2 linked regions of the Homo sapiens genome follow. The protein of the gene in region 1 interacts with the protein of each later gene in a pairwise test. Each region holds a gene or a part of one and is shown on either strand. Other genes may lie near its edges.

Evidence for each region. Proteins that work in one complex are often made in the same cells at the same time.
Region 2: the proteins of PAIP1 (region 1) and MYB interact in binary tests that used the Homo sapiens proteins (3 or more experiments, as listed by UniProt).

Annotation. Positions count from the first base shown.
Region 1 is NC_000005.10:43,554,078-43,561,727, reverse strand, and holds the start of PAIP1 (polyadenylate-binding protein-interacting protein 1), read left to right. Parts: upstream 1-4,650; 5' UTR 4,651-4,881; coding exon 4,882-5,146; intron 5,147-5,728; coding exon 5,729-5,898; intron 5,899-7,650. UniProt on the Homo sapiens protein: Acts as a coactivator in the regulation of translation initiation of poly(A)-containing mRNAs. Its stimulatory activity on translation is mediated via its action on PABPC1. Competes with PAIP2 for binding to PABPC1.
Region 2 is NC_000006.12:135,191,302-135,198,336, forward strand, and holds part of MYB (transcriptional activator Myb), read left to right. Parts: intron 1-1,022; coding exon 1,023-1,257; intron 1,258-2,536; coding exon 2,537-2,617; intron 2,618-3,054; coding exon 3,055-3,159; intron 3,160-3,658; exon of another isoform or gene 3,659-3,780; intron 3,781-4,446; coding exon 4,447-4,701; intron 4,702-5,424; exon of another isoform or gene 5,425-5,607; intron 5,608-5,659; coding exon 5,660-6,022; intron 6,023-7,035. UniProt on the Homo sapiens protein: Transcriptional activator; DNA-binding protein that specifically recognize the sequence 5'-YAAC[GT]G-3'. Plays an important role in the control of proliferation and differentiation of hematopoietic progenitor cells.

The sequences.
Region 1 (7,650 bases):
TCTCATGCTACCTACTTTTTTAATAACCCCATCTACTTGCCTCTAAATTCCACTCCCTCCTTAACCCCTGGCAACCACAAATCTGCTCTCCATCTTCATAATTTTGTCATAAATTGAATCATACAATTGCTCTTGAGATTGAAATTTTGTGTTCAGCATAATTCCCTTGAGATCCATCAACATTCTTATATGAGCAGTTGTTCCTTTTTTTTGCTGAGTAGCATTCTGTGGTATGAATGTACCACAGTTTAACTATTCATCAAAGGATATTTGGGTTCTTTCTAATTTGGGGCTCTTATTAATGATGCCACTCTAAATATTTGGGTACAGGATTTTATGTGAATATAAATCTTAATTCTCTGTGAGAAATGTCCAGCAGTGCAATTGCTAGGTAGTACAGTACTTAATATGTAGAGTTTTTTAAAGAAACTGTTTTCTAAAGTGACTATAGCATTTTACATTCTCACCAGCAATGTATGAGCAACACAGTTCCTAGTTTCTCTACATCCTTGAATTTGCATTGTCACTATTGTTTATTTAAGCTATTCGAATAAGTAGGTAGTGAAATCTCAGTGGTTTTAAAAAAATTTTCCTACTGGCTAATTATGTTGAACATTTTTCATAGGCTTATGCTATCTGTATATTCCCTTCAGTGAAGTGTTCTTTCATTTATGTTTGGCCCTTTTCTAACTGAACTGTCCTTTTACAGTTGAGTTAGGTGTTTTGTTTGTTTGGGTTTTTTTCAGACGGAGTCACGCTCAACCCAGGCTGGAGTGCAGTGGTGCAATCTCGGCTCACTGCAACCTCTGCCTCCCGGGTTCAAGCGATTCCCCTGCCTCAGCCTCCCAAGTAGCTGGGATTACAAGCACGCATCACCATGCCTGCTAATTTTTGTATTTTTAGTAGAGACGGGGTTTCACATGTTGTCCAGGTTGGTCTCGAACTCCTGACCTCAGGTAATCTGTCCGCCTCAGCCTCCCATAGTGCTGGGATCGCACCTGGCTATAGTACTCTCAATACAGTTGAGTTCTGAGAGTACTTTATATATTCTAGATACAAGTCTTTTGTCAAATATGTGGTGCCTTCATCCATTTTTGTTGCTATAAAGGAATAGCTGAGGCTGGGTAATTTATAAAGAAAAGGGTTTCATTTGGCTCACTATTCTGCAGGCTGTACTAGAAGCATGGCACCAACATCTGCTTCTGGTGAGGGCTTCAGCCTGCTTCTATGCATGGCAGAAAGTGAAGGGGAGACAGTGTGCAGAGATTACATGGCAAGAGAGGAAGCATGAGACAGGGGGAGTGTGCCAGGCTCTTTTCAACAACCAGCTCTTGGGGAAACTCCTTGGGAACTAGTAAAACCATAACTCATTCGTTACTGTGAGAATGGCACCATGCCATTCATGAGGAATCTGCCACCATGACCCAAACGCCTTCCATTAGGCCCCACCTCCAACATTCAGGATCAAGTTTCAACAGGAGGCTTGGAGGGTCAAATATACAAACTATACCATGTGGTTTGCAAATATTTCCTCTTGCATATTTATGAAAATTTTCTCCTGTTAGCTGGCCTTGAAGGCTGTACTGTCTACTCCCATAAGGTCTAATGATGATCCTGAGGTCAATAAGTTCTAAAAAAACAGTCTTTTTTTTTTTTTTTTTTTTTTTACCATCACTAGACTGGTGACCTAAGGAAAGGCAGGACCATTGCAGGTGAGTCCTATTTCTGTTAAAAGCTTATTATGGACTAAGTACTGGGTTGGACCTAAAGGATTAAAAGGCATCCTCTGTCTTCAGAGGGCTAGTTTAGGGAAGGAGACATTTAAATAAACCAAATACTAACGATAACAATCTGGCATGCTAAGTACCAAGACAGTTTTCCCAGGGTATACTTATCACAAGGGAGAGAATCTAAGATTAGGCAGCTTGGGAAGTCTTACTGGAGAATGCCTTTCAAGTACAGTTTAAGGAAACATTTTTTTCATAGTTCACAGCAGGTCCTTTTCCATATTACAACATATTTTCCAATTTGTCCAAATTTAGTTCTACTCTCCTTTCACCATAAATTAATAAAAAAGGCATACACGTGGATGAGGAGCACTTTGATGATTCTCTTTAGGGAGTTCCACATGGTGTTCACACGTTCATGTGTTTCTGTCTATGCATTTTGCAATACCTGCCAGTTAGCTCTAAAACAGTCCCAAGATGGATCTGAGCCCTTGCGGTATCTTGGCACCTTTTATGTAAAGTGAAAATATTGGAATGTCTATCTCACAGGATATGAGGATAAAATAAAATGATAAAATAAAAGCTCTTAAAAGGTGACTGACGCATAATAAATATTAGATATTTTTATTATCATGATGCAAAATCCATTCGTGTTATCTCCAAGTCCACCATCCACACATTATAAGAATAGGGCAAAAGTTATACAGTAACAAATACAGAGAAGGCAAAGGATATCTTACCTAATTTTCCTAACAAGAGGGTGTGAAGATGTCGTGACATCACCATGGATGCAGAATGGCCTTATCTTCACATGGGAAAGTCCCAGTTGTTAGAAAAGGTGCTGTTCATCATAAAAGTTTTAAGGGGAAATGAAAAGGTGGTGAGTGCAAACAAAAGCTTGGGGCAGAGTTGGGGCATCTACTTCAGTGGAACATAACTCATTGTTAGTTTTTTAGCATAGTTTATGGGTCTTTCCTGTATGATAAAAAAGTCCAGGCAAGAAGTGACTGGTGACCACATACAATAATGAATTTGAAAATATTAAAATTGTAATTTTTAAATTGTAATCTTGTCTCTGCAATATATGCTGAGTGTTACCACACAGTTATTATTTTACAGATGAGGAAAGTGAGGCTCAGAGAAGCTAAACCCCTTACTTACTCAAAATCACACAGACAGCAATAGTCAAGAGTGGAATCCCAACTAAGCTCTGGCAGACTGAATCCTAAACTTTCCGTACACCGAAGAGCCACACGTACTGCTGGCTTCCTTCCCTGACTTCATTATTTTGCCTAACATCAATAGCATGAACCATTTATTCATGATTGCCCTCGGTGAAGCCATTTTCTCATTCGTTTAGGGGAAGACATTGTTTTCTTTATTAATGAGAAGAGAAAACGGTTAACAAGAGTTTGTGTCCCTAATTGAAATGATTCTTAAGATGAAAAGATAGAAAAACATGAAACCCTGCTTAAAACAAAAGGCTAAAATCAGAATTTATGGAGATGGATCAATCCAACAGTAAAGAAATCAATTTTTCCTTCCTTGTCGTTACTTATATTCATCTATCCTTTATTTGGCATTAATACTGTCAGGCCTGACAAAAACAACAATTTACATATTAATAAAATCTAGAATTGTGCTGTGCAACGCAGTAGCCACTAGCCACATGTGGCTCTTGAGCCCTTGAAATGTGCCAATCCCGACTAAGATGTGCCATAAGTGTAAAATATACACTGGATTTCAACTAGTATCTAAAAAACAGAGAAAATATTTAATATTTTAAATCGCATGTTAAAAAACCATTTTGAACATAATGGATTAAATAAATTTAAATTAATTTCACCTGGTTTTTGTTTTGTTTTGTTTTGTTTTTTGAGACAGAGTTTGGCTCTTGTTGCCCAGGCTGGAGTGCAACGGTACGATCTCGGCTCACTGCAACCTCTGCCTCCTGCGTTCAAGCGATTCTCCTGCCTCAGCCTCCAGAATAGCTAGGATTACAGGCATGTGCCACCACGCCCGGCTAACTTTGTATTTTTAGTAGAGACGGGGTTTCTCCATGTTGGTCTGGCTGGTCTCGAACTCCCGACCTCAGGTGATCCGCCCCCCTCGGCCTCCCAAAGTGCTGGGATTACAGGCGTGAGCCACTGCGCCTGGCCACACCTGTTTCTTTTCACTCATTTAATGTGGCTTCTCCAAAATGTAAAATTACATAAGTGGCTTGCATTTGTGGCTCGCATTATATTTTCATTGGACAGCACTGATGCAAGATGAAAAAGAGGGCAGAGTTACACTGAAAGGTAGCACATTTTCTTGAAATTTCTGGAGGGGAAGGTTAACGGGAAGAGAACGAAGCTTGTTAAACGTAGGTGTGACCTACTGTGGTAAACACCTAGGGTGAATTAAAGAGGGGACACATATTTTGATTCCGTTTCTACTCCCTTCCCCCGATGCTAACGGAGCAGGTGACAGTCTCCCAGGGACCACTCCTCAGCAGTCCGCGGGTCTCGGCCGGAGCCGAGTCATTGAACACACCTGTGCGCCAGCGAACCCTGGCGCAGGGTCCACGCCCCCTCCCCCCGTGTTTTTATTTCCCGGGCGTCAACTGTCGGTCTCGCACGTCTCTCCTGAGAACTACCGAGTAGGTCGGGCCTGCCTGTGGTAAGCGTCCCCCTCACCCCTCATCCCTCATCCCCCCCAGCCTGGCCCCGGAACCGAGATGCCCCTGCCCGAGCCTGGCTGCGGGCCGGCAGGTGGCCAAGACGCCACTCGGCGGGCGGCCTGCTGGGCCCGGCGGCCGGCCAGCCGCGAACTGGAGGATCCTCGCGGGCGCGTCCCGGGCCTCCGGGCCGCAGGGGGCCGCTGTGACCCGCCTGCGCCCCTGCCGCGCCGAAGGCGGGGAGCCGGGTTTTGGGGGAGAACTGGAAAGCCGAGGGTAGCCGAGCGGGGCGGGCGCTCTGGAGCGGCGGGTGCTCGGGCTGCCGTCCGCTCCGCCAGAAGCACCGAGCAGCCGAGCCGGGGCCCGCCGCCCTCCTCCTCCATGAGGCCCGAGTGAGGCGCGGCGGCTATAGCCGACCCGCGGCGCCTTCCCCCCGCGTCCTATCGCGAGCGCAGCGGCAGCGGCCCCTGGAGGAGGAGGCGGAGGAGGAGGAGCATGTCGGACGGTTTCGATCGGGCCCCAGGTGCTGGTCGGGGCCGGAGCCGGGGCCTGGGCCGCGGAGGGGGCGGGCCTGAGGGCGGCGGTTTCCCGAACGGAGCGGGGCCTGCTGAGCGGGCGCGGCACCAGCCGCCGCAACCCAAAGCCCCGGGCTTCCTGCAGCCACCGCCGCTGCGCCAGCCCAGGACGACCCCGCCGCCAGGGGCCCAGTGCGAGGTCCCCGCCAGCCCCCAGCGGCCTTCCCGGCCCGGGGCGCTCCCAGGTACGGAGCAGCTCTAAGGGCCCCAGTCCTCCTTGGCGAACGCTTCCCCACGGCCCTCCACGCGTGCCGAGGCCCGACGCGCTGTCTGCGGTCCCCACCCCCGGTTCCCCGAAAGCATTCCCCGAGAGGGCCGCGTGACCGGGTAGGGACGGGCCCGGAACCGGGTTTGGAAGGTGTCTGCTGGAATCCTTTGTGCGCCTGGCTGGGGGGAGGGGCCGGGTGCGCGGTCTCGGAGTTCGGGGTCCCGGGAGGAAGTAAAAATCGCCTCCCCTCAGCAGCCCTCTAAAGCGAGACCCTAGCGAGTAACCACCTCTTTTCCACCGACCCCTTTAAAACGACAGAGAGGAAAAAAGCTCGCAAGCACTCATTTGAGAGGCAGGTATGCCCATAACGGAGTCACAGCAAGTCTATTGTTCCTTTTTGTAGGCTGTCTGTACACATTCCGGCGATAACCATAAATTTCATGATGGTTCCTGTTTAACTCTTAAAAACAGACGCTTTTCAGATGGTTTTTCAGTATATAGCAAGTTGCTGTACAAAGGAAAGAATGCATCTGACGCCCCGTTTTTTTTTCTTTTGCAGAGCAAACGAGGCCCCTGAGAGCTCCACCTAGTTCACAGGATAAAATCCCACAGCAGAACTCGGAGTCAGCAATGGCTAAGCCCCAGGTGGTTGTAGCTCCTGTATTAATGTCTAAGCTGTCTGTGAATGCCCCTGAATTTTACCCTTCAGGTTATTCTTCCAGTTACACAGTAAGTACACCCTTTTTCCTACAACTCTGGGTTAATTTACTGGAATAATGTGGTTGTTACTTTGTTAATCAGAGTATGTTTGTGCTTTCTGTACTACACGTAAAAAAATTTTTTTATTGTGAATGTTTTGAATTATTGAACTCAGAAGGAAACAAAGCTGATTCAGAAATACATTTTGTAGTTATATTCAAGGTATTAGAATGTAAGCTTGAGATACACATCTGTGTTCTTGTTTCTAGTGATTATTCCATTATGTTAAAATAGACATAGTTTTGATCCTAATTATTGTATGCAGAAATGTCCTACGGGGTTGTGATAAAGTATTTACATAGGTATAAAGAATGTTTAAACTTTCAGTTTTTCTTTGTCACTTATATAACAACTTTAAAAAATAGTCACTTTTCTTAAATAGCCGTACAAAGCACAGTTGGAATATGTAGAAAGGAATTTGTTGTACTGGATAAACCCAGATGAGTAAATGCATAGGGATTAATTATAGAGAAGTGGGAGGGAATCATTGGAGAAATGATTGATGATACTTTAGCTTAAATCCTGTCTTTCCTATCTTCTTAGTTTTATTGAAGTATAGCAGAGAATAGTGTACTTAAGTGTTAGCTCAGTCTCATAAAGTGAACACTCAACTAACCAGCATCCCAGTCAGGAAATAGAACATTATCAACATCCCGAAAACCCACTCTGTCTCCTTCCAGTTGTTCTTGATGTCCAAGTATAGCACTGTTTTGACTTCATAGGATAGTTTTGCCTGTGTTCAAAGTTTATATAAATAAAGTCATATAGAATATATTCTTTCTCACTTTCAATATCAAGATTACTCCATATTGTAGCATATAATTGGAGGTGACTTATTTTTATAACATTCCATTGCATGAATATATCCCATTTGTCTGTTGATGAACGTTGGTAGCTTTCACTCTTGGGTTATTATGAATAGGGCACATTTTGTGTCTTGCTGGCTGTATGCCTTTATTTCTTTTTGGTATATTACCAAGGTATGGAGTTGCTGGGACTTAGGGTAGCCAGCTTTAGCAGAGACTGCCAAGTAGTTTTCCAGAGATTGTTCCACTGTACATTCTGAGTAGTGTATGATTTCCAGTTACTCTGCTTCCTGGTCGGCACTTGGTATTTTCTGTTTAACCATTCTGGTGGGCATATAGTATCTAGTTGTGGTTTTAATTTATATTTCCCTTATAACTGATAATGACACACCTTTTTTATTACCTCTTTTTGGCTCTCCTTCCATATTTGACAGTAAAAGTATGGAAAAAGCTGTGTTCCATGTTTTAGATACTCCATGATTCTTATGCTGTATAGGAAAAAGCTTTGGGATTGGAAAGAAAAAGATACAGGCATAGCAGGAAAAGCAATTGATATGGGGTGAAAAAGGCCATCTATCGTGTAAGGTAGAAATGAGAGCATCTTGAGTTCTTGCCAGAAAATTGTATTTAGCTCACAGAGGAAAAGAACCATTAGAGCCACTGTAAGAGGTTGAATAAACTCTTAAGGATGCTTGTTCTAGCAGCTACAAGCAGGTTCCCATTTATTTTCTTCCCTATTGACTTGGGCTGTTTTATGATGGAGGGATACAGGGGTGTGTTTGTGTATGTAATAATCGTGTATCAACTATTTTTACGTGGTTCAAGTGACTTTGGGGCTGTCGAGCAGTATATAAAGTCATGTTAGTCCACCTACTTTGAGCCACTGCATCTTTTAGGCATTCCTTGCCATCCTCTA
Region 2 (7,035 bases), on another chromosome or scaffold:
TAGTATATAACAGATTTTGTTCCTTTGGAAAGCAATACTTTTAATGATAAATCTTGCATTAAAATGATGTAGATCAAAAATATTAAAAATAGTTTTATTCTTGAGCTTCATAATCCAGGAGAAAGTTTATATAGTATTCTCTAGTGATGCTCCAAAGCATTTGCACCCTTGTGGTTCAGTATAAACTTAGAAATTTTAAGAGGTTGGTAAAAAAAGGCCTTTCCTCCCATATGGCCTGAGAGGATACACTGCTGATTCTTCTCAAAATTAACAGGGCTATTGAACTTCCTCTTTCTTTAGCATACATTCCCCCACCCCCATTGAAATAGAAAAAGGGAGACTTAAACGGTTTTTTTGAATTGAGAAACTGTTTTCCTGAGAATGGAAAGACTTTAGTAAAAATGCGTTGCCTTTTGAAAATATACTGGGGGTTAGGATCTTTCCCTTTGGGATCCCATTTTCCACTCTCGTCTCTGTCTGATTCAGAAAACAATTGGGGTGGCTTTCAAAGAGTAGGAGGTTTTTTGGTCTCAGAAGTTCTCACTAGTGCTTTGAGAGATAAAGAGTGAAGTATTCTTCATCAGCAGCATCTTATCATCCACCAGACTTCACCATGTCCCTCTCGTGGTGTGTAGGCCCTGCTGTGCCACATTCAAAGGAGTAATTTCCCCAAGGCAGCTGGAACTTTACATTGTGTTGGAGTCTTGTACCGCGACCGGTCAGAATAAACATGAAGCGTTATCGTATTGAAAATACTCCTTTACCAAGGAAATGGAATGGTTAAAAGATACTGATATTTCTAGAAAACGACATGCATTCCAGATTGTGTAACTAAGAGAAATCTAACTAGGCAATAGAGAAAGCCTGATCTCAGAGGGTGGAGAAGAAGGAAACAATTAAAAAGAGAAAACAACTAATAGGCCCAAGGGAAAGGTCTCTGTTAGAAACAGTTTTCTGTCAATTCACTTTAATCTGAATTGAAATTTTTGTTTGTGAAATTTGTGTGATATATTTCTGTGCAGAACTGATAATGCTATCAAGAACCACTGGAATTCTACAATGCGTCGGAAGGTCGAACAGGAAGGTTATCTGCAGGAGTCTTCAAAAGCCAGCCAGCCAGCAGTGGCCACAAGCTTCCAGAAGAACAGTCATTTGATGGGTTTTGCTCAGGCTCCGCCTACAGCTCAACTCCCTGCCACTGGCCAGCCCACTGTTAACAACGACTATTCCTATTACCACATTTCTGAAGCACAAAATGTAAGCCATTCCTGTGAATCTAGTTTAATGAGAGAGACGGTTAGTTTAGCTCCAGGTAATAATCATACTTTGCAGTTGTATACTTTTCAGAGAACTTTCCTGAGCATGATCATGGCCAGTCTTCACCTATGCCCTTTGAAGTAGATAGGGTGTAGGTATGGTGTGTTACCCCTGGTTTATGTCTCCAGAAACGAGGATGGTAAGCGCTTTGCCCAGGGTGACACAGCTCATAGAGATAGTGCTGACTAGAAAACGAGCTGTCCGATTCTAAATTGCTGCTTCAAATCTAATTTGAAGGCAACCTTTGAATGTAAATTTACTTAAGGTACTATTGAAGAATAGGGGAATGGAGTCGCATTTGTAGATGTAATGTTTTTCTCTTCCAAAACGAAAAGGGAAGGTAGTATTATGTTTAAAGAGGAGAGAGTTTGACACTGAAATTCAGTGGTTATGGTATGTTTCATTCTGGCAGTGATCAGGCAGACATGTCTTAATTTATTCACTCAGTAAGTGTTTACCTTCTTACTCTGAGTCAGGAGCAGAACTTTGTGACATTCATTTTCTGATGTCTCCTTTTAGTCTCCGTTGGATCAGTGTGATCCCTTCCTTATTTCTAGATATTTATATTTAGGGAAAGTGATAATCCATAATAGGTGGAAAAAGAAGAAGAAAGAGGAAAAAAATCGAGAAACTTTAATCTTAAGAATAACAATATTAAATGATAAAACTTACCCAAGAATAGAGAGCTCATATGCAAATTATATGCAAAACATGTTCATAAATAGTTTTTATTCTTCTCTGTCCATGGATTTGACTACAAACTTTACAGAAAGGTCTCAGATGAATAAATTATCATAAGAATTCCTGTGCTTTTTATTAAAACTCAAAATTATTCCAAGAAAAATATTTTTATTTACAAACAGCTGGTGCCATCAATTTTTCCCATAGAAACAATTTTGAAACATTCATTAATGTATTTTATAATATATTTTTTATTGTTTTTTTCATTGTGTTTTTCTCTAATTAAGGAACACTTCCCAAAATTTAAAGTGCTCATCAACACCTCCCAAGGATTTTTCACCATGTTCCTTTAGCTGTTTAGCCATTTTAAAGGCCTGGCTAAATTTCACATTAAAAGGTTTTAAAAATTTGTTTAGTGTATTTTATCAGTAAAGTGTTTTTTTTCTCTCAGTCCCAGAACGAAACCTCAGGAAGCCAAGTCCCCTGAAGCATATGTAGCCCTGAATGACGTGGCCTTTGTTTTGTCTTTTGCATCTAGGTCTCCAGTCATGTTCCATACCCTGTAGCGTTACATGTAAATATAGTCAATGTCCCTCAGCCAGCTGCCGCAGCCATTCAGGTAAGATCATTGATCATTCACTGTTCAAAGCACCACTTTTAAGAAATGCTTATTTCTTTCATCTAAACACATATTTTTACCTGAGCAACTAAAGTAAAAAGGAAAGGGAACATGGAGAGGAGAGCAGAGTCTTGGCCAGCAATCTATTAATCTTGTCTTCTAGAATGAGTTTGCTCTGGAATTTTCTGATTCTTTGATGTTGCAAGGTGAAATAACTCATCAGTCAGCATCCACTCTAGCCTGAGATTTCACATCACTCCCTTAAGTCTGAAATAACATTCACAAAGATTTCTGCAGGAGCCAAATTTGGTTGGTGGTGTTGTCACAGTGAGGCTCTTTGGGCTGTGCGGCACCTCATGACCATATTGGCTACACCCATTGTATTTGCAGCTTCCAATCAGACCTTTGTCTTTATTTCCCTTACTTTGTAATTTCAGAGACACTATAATGATGAAGACCCTGAGAAGGAAAAGCGAATAAAGGAATTAGAATTGCTCCTAATGTCAACCGAGAATGAGCTAAAAGGACAGCAGGTGCTACCAGTAAGACTGTCATCATGTGCTTGAATGAGGGGATAGCAGCTTTGCCTCAGTTTACCTAAGCGCTCTTCTCTTCTAAATATTACACTTAGCAAGGCTCCATATATCCATTCAGAATGTCTCAACACAAGAAGTTGCTTGTAGTAAAATGTAGTTGGTATCAGATTATATGCTGATTAAATTGGAAGCAGTCTTTTTGTAATTGCAATAAAAATGCAATATCCACTTATGATTGTTATCATCAATTTTTTTCTTCAGAAGGACTATAATCAGTTTAAAGACTAGCAAAGATAAAATGAATGAAAATCTGCATTTTCTACAGAGCTATGTATCTATATGGTACCATTTTGGTTTTTTTCTATTATTTTGTTAACCTATATTTTCATATTTTATAATTTCAGACATGATTTGATGCATGTTCAGTATATACATGTAAAAGGTTATATATAAAACCTCTTCATAAATAACATTAGCTGCTCTCTTTTATTTGCATGTGTGAAAGTTATGTGGGCCATTACTGAATTCTGACATCTTTAGCGACTGGGCAGCCAACTGGGATGGCTCCTTGTGCTTTGCAACATACATAGTTAACCAACAAAGACAATAAAAGAGAAGTGATGCCCAGTAGGTATTCCTAGGGGTAAATTTATTTTTTGTTAAATAATAAGATGTTTATGTGCACATGCTAGTTCGACCACTTTTTAACTTTAGTTAATGTTTTGCAATTTCTCCTGTTGTGTGGTCATACTGTAAGGAGACTTCTGTTAATTTGCTCTTCTGCTTTCCTAACCACGTTGATTTGGCAGTGCTTCACTGCATCAGTGCAATCTGTAGCATTAGAAAGGGATAGAAGCAACAAGAATATGTGTAGATCAAAGCAACTCTAACTCCTGAGTCCTCTAGCTTTTTTGTGGTTAGAATGCAAATAGGACAGTTCTTCAGTTCTTCACTCACAGCAAGCATTTATGGACCTTTGGCAAATTATATTAAAGTGGAATTTTAAGACAATATGATAATTATACTTCGAAATATAGACCTATGATTTGACATTTTTACAAAATGATAACAAGGTAATCATATAGGTACAACCTCTAGCACTATTAAAAACAGGGTCTTGCATTGATAAAAGGAAACATCTTGACAACTGTTTCATAGGCGTAAGTTTGGGATGATGCAACTACTCTTATCTTTCCTCCAACAGCATCTGATACCTTGTGCAACTTCATTGCTAAGTTCCTTCTCCCTTTCTTCTGTCCTCTCTTTATTTCTACACCCTTCCCCCTTCCTTAGACACAGAACCACACATGCAGCTACCCCGGGTGGCACAGCACCACCATTGCCGACCACACCAGACCTCATGGAGACAGTGCACCTGTTTCCTGTTTGGGAGAACACCACTCCACTCCATCTCTGCCAGCGGATCCTGGCTCCCTACCTGAAGAAAGCGCCTCGCCAGCAAGGTGCATGATCGTCCACCAGGGCACCATTCTGGATAATGTTAAGAACCTCTTAGAATTTGCAGAAACACTCCAATTTATAGATTCTGTAAGTAGAATTGTGAAGGGAAGTTAACGATTCTGGAAGATAAATTAGAAAACCCATTTCTTAAATCATTGCCATTTTCTATAGCCAAGCTGTTATTAGCATATATTAATGTAAAGGTAGAAGTATGATTTTCATCTTCATGAATATGTTTTTTCAAAGATCTGATTTCATAGCCTACCGAGAGAGACAAAAGTATTTATAAATACTTACAAAATAGGACTTTTGAAGGAAGAGTTTTTTTTCACATTTTCACACTTTTCCTTCAAAAGTCATATTTTTAAAAATAGTCAGATTGATGACTTATAAAGCAGAGCTTGGATTATGGGAACGGAATGGTGTTTGAGTTACTTTTAACTTTTTTTTTTCTTTGCTTACTTCATGGTGCTTCTCTAGAATTTTGTCTTGCTTTTGAACAGCACATTAATGATTTGGCTTACTCAGAGCTGAAAGCAATCTTTTAGTGTATTTGAAGTAATAATCAGCTCCTTGGTCATACCTGGCTCTTTCCACAAAATGGTGATTATTGATTACTGGTCCCATTGCTTCACTGAGATGAATCATCTTTCGTGAAACAAATTTGTATTCAGCACCTCCTCAGCGAACACTTGGTTCCTTTCCCAGTTGATTAAAAATCATTTATTGCACACTCATTGGTTAGGAGATGACCATTGCCGTAATATGCCATCTAGAAAAGGTCTTCATTTTGCTTTCCATTGCATGCAGATGTAGAGTGTCGGGAGGTCCCTGCAGCACATCAGAGGGCCAGCCTTGAGGCAGCCCACTAGACCCTGCTCTACTGCAGTATAATAGAGCAACTGCTCATCTTGAAGCTGTTGCTCAAGAAGCCAAACCAACGGGCCTAGTGTTTGCTTTGCGTTGAGCATCTCTCTCTCAGTGCTGTTTCAGGTGATGATGGCACACACTATCTCAAAGTTCTGTGCCTCCCACATTGTTTCAGGATTCTTCATCATGGTGTGATCTCAGCAGTTTTGAATTCTTTGAAGAAGCAGATTTTTCACCTAGCCAACATCACACAGGCAAAGCCCTACAGCTTCAGCAAAGAGAGGGCAATGGGACTAAACCTGCAGGAGAACCTAGCCCAAGGGTGAACAAACGTATGTTGAGTGAGAGTTCACTTGACCCACCCAAGGTCTTACCTCCTGCAAGGCACAGCACAATTCCACTGGTCATCCTTCGAAAAAAACGGGGCCAGGCCAGCCCCTTAGCCACTGGAGACTGTAGCTCCTTCATATTTGCTGACGTCAGCAGTTCAACTCCCAAGCGTTCCCCTGTCAAAAGCCTACCCTTCTCTCCCTCGCAGGTAGAACACAATTTCTGCACAGCTGTTACTCATTTTCAACAGACACCTGAGCCTTAATAATCTAGAAACTAATACTTCGGAACAAATGACTAATTACTGCTGCCTTTGCTGATTTCATTCTGTCGTTGAATCTAGCTGTTGCTAAGTTATACTGCCTCCCAAAGTTTAGGCTGTCTGCAGGCTAACTGTTGATTTTGGCATCATTCTCTCTCTTTTACTTTTGGGTGGTTTTGAAAGATAGTTGCATGAAACGTACTTTTATTTCCTTCAACACTAGAGTTTAACATTTCTGTCCCTTTCTTTTTCTCCCATCTGATCCCTCCCTTTAAAATTGTTAACATCATTTCTTCCTCGTTGTTCATTTATTCTTATGCGATTCACTGACCCAGGGGAGGAGGGAACCAAATTGTGTTTATATAACATTTGGGTTGCAACTAGAAAATTTAAAGCTAGAAAATTTAAAGGTTCCAATTCATCTTTAAATGGAAGAGTTTGGGAAGAGGATGAGAAACAAATGCTTAAGGAAAAGAACATATTTTTAATTTCAGTTTCTCAACATTGGCTCTTTTGAGTTGTGCCATACTATTTTACTAGTGCAGTTTTTGCCAAGGAATATTTTTATTTCATACAGCTTTTTTAAGGCATGAAAATCACAATTCTTATCAGAGATTTGTGTTCCTAAATTATTTAAATAATTAAATTAATAGATAATTTGGCACTTTAAAACATTTTTCCAATTGTATCTGTTGAATTTGTTTTAAGAACAGATTTAGGTATGATATAGGTATATACATTTGGGAAACACTGAATCAAACAAAGTTACAAGTAGGTTTCTTAGCTGGGCATAGTGGCATGGGCCTGTAGTCCTAGCTACTGGGGAAGCTAAGGCAAGAGGATTGCTTAAGCACAGGAGTTCAAGTTCAGCCTGGTGAACATAGCGAGATCCCATTTCTTTAAAAACTTTCTTTTTTTTAACTGCAGGCCTTCTCAGAGTTATTAATATGCCGTTGTGC